2 separate regions of the Homo sapiens genome follow, and region 2 is linked to region 1. The links come from fine-mapping of genetic effects on gene expression. Tissue or cell type: monocytes after LPS. Region 1 holds a variant in brackets; the other region holds the start of a gene. All regions are shown on one strand. Distances are between the middles of the regions.

Region 1 (5,149 bases):
GCTGTGTTCCTTCCGGAGACTCTAGAGGAGAATCCGTTCCCTTGGCTTTTCCACCTTCTAAAAACACCTGCATTTGTTGGCTCAAGGCCCCTCACTCCATCTTCAAAATTAGAAGCATGGTATCTTCCATTCTCTCTCTGACTCTCCCTTCCTGCCTCCTTCTTGTGATTAAACTGAGCCCACAAGGATAACCCAGGATTGTCTCCTCATTTCAAGATCCTTAACATAATCACATTTGCAAAACCTCTTTGGACATGTATGGTAACATATGCACAGATCTTGGGATTAGGATGTGGACATATTTCGGGGGACATTATTCTGCCTACCATAGACCCTGAGCAGGATGAGCTTGGTTTGGGGGCACAAGGCTAAAACGCAGTTTCCTGTCTCCCTACCAGCTCTGTTCAAAGTAAAACTTGGTACGGGCTGAGGGCTCACTCTCCTTGGTGAGCTGTACTGGCTGCTGGGGCTCTGCCGGGCCACACAGGAACCAGCCAGGCCAGGCAGCAGCCTCAAGCCTGAAGGCGGAGCCTGAGCTGCTCTGGAAGAAGGTGAAGCGTGTGGCCTCTTCACCACCTTTGTACAGTTCCTCAATGTTCACATCCTGTGGGGGCAAGGTGGATGGCTGCAGAATGAGAGTGCTGATGGAGGTGTTAGCCCTGGAGGCCTCTGGGGCTTGGCCAAAAAAGGACCTGACAGGGCTGGTTTTTACCCAAGGGACTGCCTTCTGCAGATTCTAGAGGGCAAGGGTCTTGGTGCTAGGTGCAGAGGGAGATGGTGGAAACCTGAGGAAGTAGGACATGTGGACCTGGCTGGGAATCCACAGATAGGCACAAAGATGCCAGAGCATCCCAGGGGTCAGGCCAGGTCTGCAGTGTCCCCTAGAATGGGGAGAGGCCTCTCACCTCCAGCTGTAGGGAAGGCCCCTCTTCTGTCTCCACACATGCCAGGCAGCGGCTCCCTCCCTGGATCCCCAGGAAAATGGGGACCTTGGTGCGGGCCAAGCCTCTGTTAGGAAGTATGCAGATCTTCTCTAGGAGGGAAGAGAGAGAAGAGTCAAGGGACAAGGGAACCCCATGTTGCAGGCTCTTGGCAGGTAAAGGCTCAGGCAGGAAGGAACTGGACATGGGCACACCTGGCCTGGCCCTGCATGCAGACTGGACGGTGAGCCAGGACTTCTGCAGGAGTCATGTCCCCTCGCTAGGAGAGGCCACAGCTGCTCTCTGGCCCTTCTCACTGTCACTGGGGGCAGCTGCTGACCCTCTGCTGGGGAGGAAAGGGAAGAAGAGAAGGGAGGGCCTATGGCAGATGGAGCATGGGGTGGAGGCCCCAGAAGCTCACCTGCACAGCAGTTGTCTGCAACAGGATCTCCCACCAGCAGCTGGCCATCTCTTGTGTATAGAGCCTTCTGGTCTGCATATTTAATTCTGAAACAGTATGACAGTGCTGATGGCCCATTCCCTTTATGCACCACTGGCCCCCAAGCCCTTCCACTTCCATGCTCTGAATCACCACCTTGAGCATTTGGGCGATTTTCTCTCCTTCACAGGTGGTAAGAGGGGAATGGTCACTCCCAAGAGCAGGTAAAGACCAGGCCAGCCTTAAAGCAAGGAAGGTCTCCTGTGTTCTTGCTTTTCAGAGGCTGTGCTTCCTGCCTTCTCATGGCTTGGGGAGGCCTTCAGAGGAGAACGGAGAGCCAATGCCCTCTGACAGAGGGGTAAAGAAAATGTTCCTGGCTTCCTGAGAAATTTCTTAGTGAGGCTCAGATGACTTTGGGATACAGTGGACCTTATCTTAAATTTTTTGGGCCTGCCCTAATTGTTTATAAATGTTTATTCTCTTTAGTACAGAGATTGAGTGTATACTGAAGTGTGATTTGCTTTTCAGATATTTTAAAGGCTTCAAAGTCATGCAGGGTATTAGCTCAGTCACCTAGTTGGTTTCAAAGATGCCTGTCAGCTGCTGTCAGGGCTGGAGAGCTCTCATTAACCTTTTAGGGCAGAACCTCTGGACAAATTCCACCACCTCCAGGGGATTTTTCTATCTCAATAACAGCTAACGATAATACCCTTAGCTAATGACTGTACATATTTAAAGCAGGTTCACTTGTACAATAAAAATAAACTTCCGGAAAGATCCTGGGCGTG[T/C]TATCTGGCATTCCCCTTGCCACCTTGACAACCCAGATGTGACAACTCACATGCCAGCAGCATTCTATTTGGAGACCAGAACCCAGATTAGATGCCCTGAAGTGCTGACATCTGCTTTGTCATTTATGTGCTTCCTATGTATGTGTCTTGCTTCCCAGCCAGGCTGTCACCTCCTTGAGACCAGGACTGCTCCCCACCCACCTTGTCCAGGACACAGCCCTGGACATTACAGGGTCCATGGGAGGGGCAGAGGAAATGCATCCCAGAGTCCTCTTTGATTTTTCTTATGCCTCACCTCCTTCCTGAAAGGAGCTTATGACAAAATCACAGACAACAAAGTAGTAAAAGATAAGGAAGGATGCAAATCTCAAATGAGATGAAATGTAAGTAAGTGTTAGAAGCCCACACTGGGAGTAAAGGCCACAGGGACCACCATCAAGATGCTGTCATTGAGATTCAAAACTTTCTGACATTTCAGAGAGGCGGATGGAGCAGCACAGAGGACATGAAGTCTGATTCCTGGCTCTGCCTTTTGGTAGCTGTGTGACATGGGGGAAGTTATTTACCCTCTTTGAGCCTCAGCTTCCAGATCTGTAAAATGGGTTTAATAACACTCCACTTACAGACTTTTTGGAACAGAGATGAGGCAGTAGATTGGCTGGCATCTTGCAGACGTTCAGGAAAGAGCTGTTGCTACTGTGGTGATGATGAAGCTTAATTATGGGGCACTTGCAATTTCTAAGGTGAGAAGGAGCCTCATCCTCTGACTCAGCATTCCTTTCCTCTTCCCACCCTGACCCCCTGGCTTGGAAAGCAGGGACATGCCAGGACAACTTACATGTAGTATCTTGCCATGGGGAGGGAACACATTCCTGCAATCAGTGGTGTCTGGTCCTCACTGATGGGGAGGAGAGAAGGGCAGTTAGAAAAGGAGGCTGGGTGAAGCCAGAGGCAGACGTGCTGGGGCTTAGAACCACTCAGCCAAGGGCTGCACGGGTTCCCCAGGCCATTCGTCTATAATTGGCCTGCCAGAATCCACCAAGGCTTCCACCAGCCCAGCAGGCTCCAGGCAGCTCTGCCTCTCCCTGACTGAGGCTATCCGGGAGCAAGTCCAGCCACCAGGGGTGTGAGCCTGGGATGTGTGTGCTTGCGCTGGTTCTGAGAAACTGGAAAACAGATTCCCCCAAATAGCTGAGCCACAACAATTCCCAGCCCTGAGAGTGGGGTGGAGTGTGCTGTAGCCTCCCTCACAGTTGGAGGATAAGCCCAGCTCAAACCCAGTCCCACTGCCCTGTTGGCCAACAGGGCACCACACCCCCGCCCCCATAACTAGCCAAGGGTTAGATAACTAGAGCCCAGAGTGAAAGAAGAGAGCACAACTAGAAGGGGTCTCCAGCAGCAGTGAGGCTGGTGGGGTCTCCCCAGAGAGTTGGAAAACATCATTCCTAGTGACTAGAAGTGCTTGGCCAAGACTGCCGAAAACAGCCCATCCAAACTCCCCCATTCTGTTCCAGATGGAAAATGGCACAGTGAAGATAGTGGCCCTGTATAAATGCCAGGCCACACAGCCTCACATGACTCTGCTCCTTCCCGATGGGTTATCCTGTCCTAGAGCTCTTCCCTAAAATGAACACCCATTGGAAAGGCCAGTCCAGAATTTAGCATGGAAATAAACCCAGAGCTAATCAGGAGTTGGAAATTAGCTCAGGAAAGTAACGCAAGTATGACTAGGGCTGAGGTTTACCGAGTAGATCTGATTCTCACCAAATAAGAAGGGAATAGAGAAGAAAAAATATAAGAAAGCAGAAAATGAGAGAAGAGAAAGGAAGAAGGCAGGTGGAAGAAAGTAATAGGGCTCAGGGAGGAATAGAGAGATGCTGAGGGACCCTGGGGAGGCAGGTGAGAAGGAACAGGTGGGTGCTGAGGATACGGCTTCCAACCACCTCAGCTCTCAAGTTCCAGAAACAGGGCTGTAGCCAAGGTGGCTTTTAGTACTGGGTCTGTCACTGTCACTTTGGACAAGTCATTTTCTGTCCCCAGGCCTTGGGGTATGACTTTGAGACTTAGAGTGAAGGATAATAGGGACTAACAAGTGCAAATTCTGGAGGGATGTTGGTGCTGTGAATGAAAGTCTTAAAGCATTCTGTATACTTTGTGATTGCATGTGTTTCCCTTACTCTTAGGAAAAATAACGGATTGCCCAAATGTTTACTTACAAAAATGTTCACTGCATAATTTTTTACAATAGCAAGAAGTTGAAAAAAATCTGAATTTTCAGTAATAGGTAATTGGCTAAGAAATTATAGCAAAATTCAATAAATAAGGATGTATGTGTTTGTTAAAGATGATATTATAGAAGCTTGTTTTAGGACATAAAAATTTTCAAAATATATTAGGTGAAAAATGCAGATTATAAATCAAGTGTACACTGTAATTCTATTTAAATCCACACATAGAGACACATACATAGAAATGTTACTCGTGTTGTTGCACCACTTACCTATGGCTTTATGAGTAATTTTTTAAACATATCAACATTTTCCTATAATGAACATGAATTTCCTTTGTAGTATCAAGTAAGTTTCAACATTTTTTAAATGAAGTGTTCAGTTAAAGTCATTGGCTCCTAAATGTGCCTGCCCATCTGCATCACCTGGGGGACTCTGTATAATTACTATTTCCTGGGCCGAAGGTTCTAATTCAGTAGGACTTGGAGTGATTCCAGCAATCAGCCATGCTGCTTGGGAACTGGTGTACTTTCATTCCATTCTTCACACTTATTAATAAATATATAAACCACCTGCAGTTCTTGTTAAAATAACAGATTCTGGTTTTTCAGGCCTGGGGTGGGGCCTGAGACTGTACATTTCAAATATGCAACCAGGTGATGTCAATGCTGCTGGTTCCTCCTGGCCAGCACTTTGAGTCCTAAAGGACTAGACAATCCCCCAGTACAGATAACTCAACAGCATCATGGCCTCAATGCAAGCCCACTTGATGAT
Region 2 (5,149 bases), 96 kb after region 1:
AGATGGTATCAGTTTCCTTTTGAAGTCAGAAAGATTATTTGATTTAGCAGGGCAGTATCCTCAAGTGGATCTGGAAGAGAGCTGAAGAGTGTAATCCCAACTAGACCCACCAAATGGCCAACCCCCATATTCATTCATTCATTCATTCATTCATACCATGTGCCAATCACTGCCCTAGTAAATGAGCAAACACAGAGAGCTAAGCAGACAACAGAGTATGCTCTTGAGATTCTCACGCCTCTGCTTGAGCACATGGAGATGGGGAGCTCCTACATCAAGCAGCCCCTCTGATTCTTGGAGAGCTTGGTCCCTTTTGCAAGTTTTTCCCAATGTGATGCTGAAACCTGCCTTTCTGTGGTATTCACCCATTTAGTCATTTTAGGACACCCTGAAGTCATGCAGAACAAGCTACTAGTCTTCCATAAGACAGGGCTTCAGATGACTGACAGCAGCTTTCCTATTCCCTTGGAGGCTCCTCCACCATCTCTGGCTTCTTCATCTTAGTGGAACCCAAAGTTCTCCCTGACTTCTCTTCCCAATTAGGTGTGAAATTCTCCCCACTCCTGGTGGGCCCCATTGTAAAGTCACACTTTTACAAAAGGCTGATGCCAGCTTCCCAGCCACAGCAGTGCAAACAGTGGGGAAGGCACAGGGTGACCACTCACCTGGGGTCACACTGTCACTTCGTGGAACTGCCACAAGGTTCTGACCCTGAAGGGTCCACACTTGCTGATTCAAATCATTAATAGTCCCAGTAATAGGTTTACACACTGATTTTGGGATAGAGAAAAAAATGAAGAAATATTATAATCAAGGCTGCTTTACTAGACCCAGGAGAAAAGTATCTAACCCAGGCCATTTTGTAAGGAAGGTGTGGGGTTTGCATCCCCAAACTGACAGCACTCACATCACCCATCAGCCTAGCCTTTCTTTCTAGTGAAGTTGTGAGCTCTGGTGAGGAAGGCAAGGGCTACCAAGGGAAGTCACTGGTTTAAGAGGGCAAACTATCAAGACAGAGGGCAATGAGCAGTCTCACAGAACCTGTGTGCCAAGGCCCAGCTACCCTCTTTTGTGCCTACTCTGTGCTTGGCCCCGGTGCTGGGGACTGGAGCTGGATCAGTGACTAAGCAATAGCTCCCACCCTCCAGAAGCCCAGGGCCCAGTGGTAGGTGGGCAGCACCAGGTGGGAAGGGCAGTGTACAGAGAGGAGCAGAGAAGGCTGGGGCTTCCACAGGAGATAGCGTGAGTGCAGAGGGCCTAAGCCTCCAGAGCCCCATCCCAACAGCATTTGATTCACTTGATTGATAGACGGCCCTTCCTCCACCATCAGCGTCTCCTGGAGTGCCTCTCATAGTGTGGTTGTCTCAGCACCTGTGAAAGCAGACATAGAACAGATGAACCACAAGAGATGTTTCCAAGACCTTCCAGGACACTAGCTCCACAGGCCCTCATTCTAGACAGGGAGCTGGGAAACCTGGCCTGACACGAAGCTCTGGGCAGAAGTTCTGAGCCACATCTGGGACGAAACTTGAAGGAAGCATCAGCAAAGGGAGAACAGGTAGAATTTTCCTCCACCTGGAGATCCAGATAGTATGGTAGTGTCTCCCCTAGGAGTTCGAAGGCCAGGCATAAAATTTGACCTTAAATAACCCACAGGCACCTGATGCCCTGACTCCTCTTCTCTGAAGCCTCCACCCCTTCATCGGCATTGTTTTTGCCTAGGAGCAGGGGAGGGTCCCATGCCAGGGCCACTCTGCCAGGATCCCAGCAACTCCCCAGTAAGAAGCAGCCACACATAGGACAAAGCACAGAGCCAGCCTGATGTGGCCCTTCCCTTCATTAAGCCCAAAGCACAGATGAGAGGAAAGGCTCCAGAGGGAGGGAGAAGAGGTTTTCCAGCTATTGACTATACCTGGCAAGAAAGGGTCTTTATCTACAGTCCAGGGGACTGAATCGTGGCTCCAGCAGCTTCCAAGGTCAGTGATGGGTTCTAATGGAGCCTGGATCATTTATCTGGATGAGCAGAGAAGGAGGCTCCAGCTTCCTGGGTGGGGCATGAGAAACGTATGACATGAAAGAAAACCAGCTCCTCCTACCAGAAGATCCTGTGAGGCTCGGAGGAAGAAATCACAGAATTAGCACAAGTATCACCTGTCCGGGCTCGCTGAGAAATAAGTGTTGAGCCAATCCGCACAAAATCAACCACAAGGAAATGAGGTTGATGACAGATCCTAGGTTTCTCATAAAGGGGAAACTAAGGGAATTTCCCAGAGTTCAGCTCTCCTGTCATGTCATTCTAGAGCTAGAACTGGAAATGCCAGGCACTCTCATGTCAGGGACTCCATCTCCTGGGACTGGGAGCCTTGCCCTCTGCAGTCAGGCTAAAGGCATCCTGTAAGAGCAAAATTAGCCACACGTCTCAGGCAAGGTCCCTGTGGCATTTCTCAACTACCCCACCTAAGGCCACACCTGAATGGAAAGCCAGGCAGTAGAGCTCCCCTACCTAACACTCTTTCAGCTCCATCCACATGGGGAGCCACAGGGACTATGCAGACTGGTCTTTTAACTGAGGCAATCCTAGTTTCAGGTACCCTCAAAATGCAGTGGACTCCAGAACTGCCTAAGGAAGTAAAGAGGTGGGCAGCGATTTCTCCCAAATCTGAGCCCCAGATGCCAGCTTATCCCCCACCCTCTGCCCTAGGTTCCTGATCAGTGGTAATAGTTATTTTTATATCTTGTTTATACACCCCATCCTATCTGCTGTAGCCAAGCCTAAAAATTTACTGAGGTATAAGTTAACTACTAGAGTGAAGTGAGTTTTAGGAGACAGACTTGAAGCACTAACAGCTTCAGGTTTACCCATCTATAAGGAAGAAAAGCACAAAGAATGAGACAGAACCTTCCAGATAAGCTCATCCATGAGCCCCTCTTCCCAGCCCTGCAAAGAGTCTCCTGACTCAACGTCTCTTACTTTTCACCCTAATCTCCTTTCTGGCCTTGGAAGAACACAGTCCTTTCCTGCCATGGCCCCAATTCTATCACTTTTGGCTTCCAGTGTTTCTGTGACCCTAGGAAAGAGTGTGGTAATGCCAGGTGCACTTTTGTTCAAAGTCAACCTGAGCCAGTGCCACCTCACTTGAGTCTCCATTGCCCTGTTAAAAATCCCCTCCATTACACATCAGTCAACATAACTCCTTTCTTGGGATGTTCACCACAAAACAGCATCTAAAATTCCCATCATTTGACCCCCCAAATCCCTTAAGCCTGAATTTCCAACTGGGATCCCTCTGAAAGCAGAATCCATGCTAGGAATTGCAAACAAAGGGAATTGAATAAAAGGAACTAGATACACGTGTGTTGGAAAGCCAAAGAAGATTAAGGGATTGCTGTGGTATCTCAGATAGTAACAACTACAGGAAGGAAACAAAAGGGAACAAAAGAACCTAGGTCTCAAAGGAGCGCTTTTGTAGGACTTATCCCCAGATATGAGTCGGAGGTGAGGCGTTCTCTGCCAAATTGATGCTCAGACCTCTGAAAAGAGAGTACAGTCTGGTCAATGCTTGGAGCATGAAGGTGGAGGGGAGGGGTCAAGAAGAGGATGCTCAGAGGACTCACAGGACACAGCTCTAACAGCTGAATTTTCTTTGGTTCAAAAGCCTGTGGGTACAGCTAGAACTTCCCACGCCCAGATGAAGGTTGCAAAAACTATAAAAGAGGGTGACATGTGTCCTCTTCAGCCTCCGCCCTCATTCCACTTGGTCCTGACCCTTCAATAGATTCCAAGCACTCAGAGAATCCAGCCCTTCCTAGAATTCCCAGCACTCAGCATCCATCCTGAAGTCCCTAGTTTAACTGTTAGTGTGAATAAGTATCAGAGAAATTGGAGGGAGTAGGAGTGATGATGATAAAAGGGGAGAACTGAATCACTGGGGTTGATCAGTAAAGAGCAGAGATCACATCTACTGAAGAAATGGCCCCGAACGTTTATCTTAAAGTGGAAGGGATGGATGTTATAATTACATGATACCCTGGCTGTACTTGAGAAAACCATCAATATTGATTCTGGTTATAAAAAGTAAAGAACATAGCGTTGCTATATTTTATTTATTACCATTGATTGTTTTATTTATTATCAACGATTTATTATCATGGAGAACAATGACAATGATGCTTATCATTAAGTGTGGCTTGAATTTAATTACCATAAGTACTGACAAGGCCAAATTCCCTAGATATGAAAATGATTTTAAGAAAACACTTAGTCCAGATTCTAATTTCCAAGCTCTATGACACTGTCAATCTACATTCATTTGGTAATAAGCCCTGCTACTAGTTTGTTCACTTAACATGCTCATTACCTTATTAAGTTGAGGGAATATCAATGAAATGCAGGTAGGGTAAGAGAACTTGATTACTGACCACCACTACAATCTCTAGAATCTCTACAACACCTTTTTCATGAAACCAGGCACACAATCATAACAAAGCAGAGGGAGCCATGGAGCAGTAAAGGTTATTCAGCCCCCACCATTGCCAACCATAAAAAAAATCACCTTAGTAGTAAAATTAAACTTAGAATCTATAACTCCGGACTCCAAATGCAGAGCTCTCTGCTGGAGTCATAGGTCCTCCTTGGGGCCCCCAAAGAGGACCAAAGCCATGTGGCCTATTACCTATCAAGGGCTATCTACAAGCAGGCTGGCAACCTGGCCTGAAGATTGCCACTGGAAAGAAGTTGGCATTCATCTCGCTTAAATTGGTGGGGCAACATGGTGTGTACCATGAACCACAGAGACCAGTGTGGGGCCATTTGTACTCTAGTGGACTTGGGAAAATGCCAAGGAAGCTCTTGGCATAGGCTCTGTGGTAAAGCCTTTACCCAACGTAGATGGAATGATGTGCATGGACATGGCCGAAAGCCTCTGCTCCTCCACATAGCCCAAGCCCATTATCAAAGACTTGCTTCCTATGAGCTGATCCATTACATCTTCCTGAAGCTGGTTTCTATGAAACCCCAGACTTTGGCACATAGGCCAACACGCTATTTAAATGAAGGACAGAGTAACAAAAATAACCCCAAAGCTACACATCAAAATGGCAGTAATAAATAGAAACATTAAAAGAGTTAAGACTAAAGAACCAAACCATA

Which allele goes with the higher level. Positions count from the first base shown, and alleles are read on the strand shown. Sizes are in standard deviations (SD) of each study's normalised expression.
With allele T in place of C in region 1, the expression in monocytes after LPS of the gene that starts at base 1,985 in region 2 is higher (large effect, 1.1 SD a copy in Fairfax 2014).

What was found. PIP is the estimated chance that this variant, and not a neighbour inherited with it, causes the effect.
Region 2: IL36G starts here. The variant in region 1 is fine-mapped to the expression of IL36G in monocytes after LPS (Fairfax 2014, PIP 0.95).

The regions. Positions count from the first base shown.
Region 1 is chr2:113,070,607-113,075,755 of GRCh38, reverse strand. IL1F10 (interleukin 1 family member 10) reads right to left here. Exons shown (of 5, transcript NM_173161.3): 2 at 2,986-3,045; 3 at 1,342-1,427; 4 at 906-1,033; 5 at 1-604. The coding sequence starts at 3,017. The coding sequence ends at 392. Among named protein-coding and RNA genes, the nearest start is that of IL1F10, 5.2 kb to the right of the region's middle. The variant T/C (reference allele first, on the strand shown) is at 2,148.
Region 2 is chr2:112,974,842-112,979,990 of GRCh38, reverse strand. It overlaps IL36G (interleukin 36 gamma), which reads right to left and starts at 1,985. Exons shown (of 5, transcript NM_019618.4): 1 at 1,913-1,985; 2 at 1,298-1,371; 3 at 666-770. The coding sequence starts at 1,352.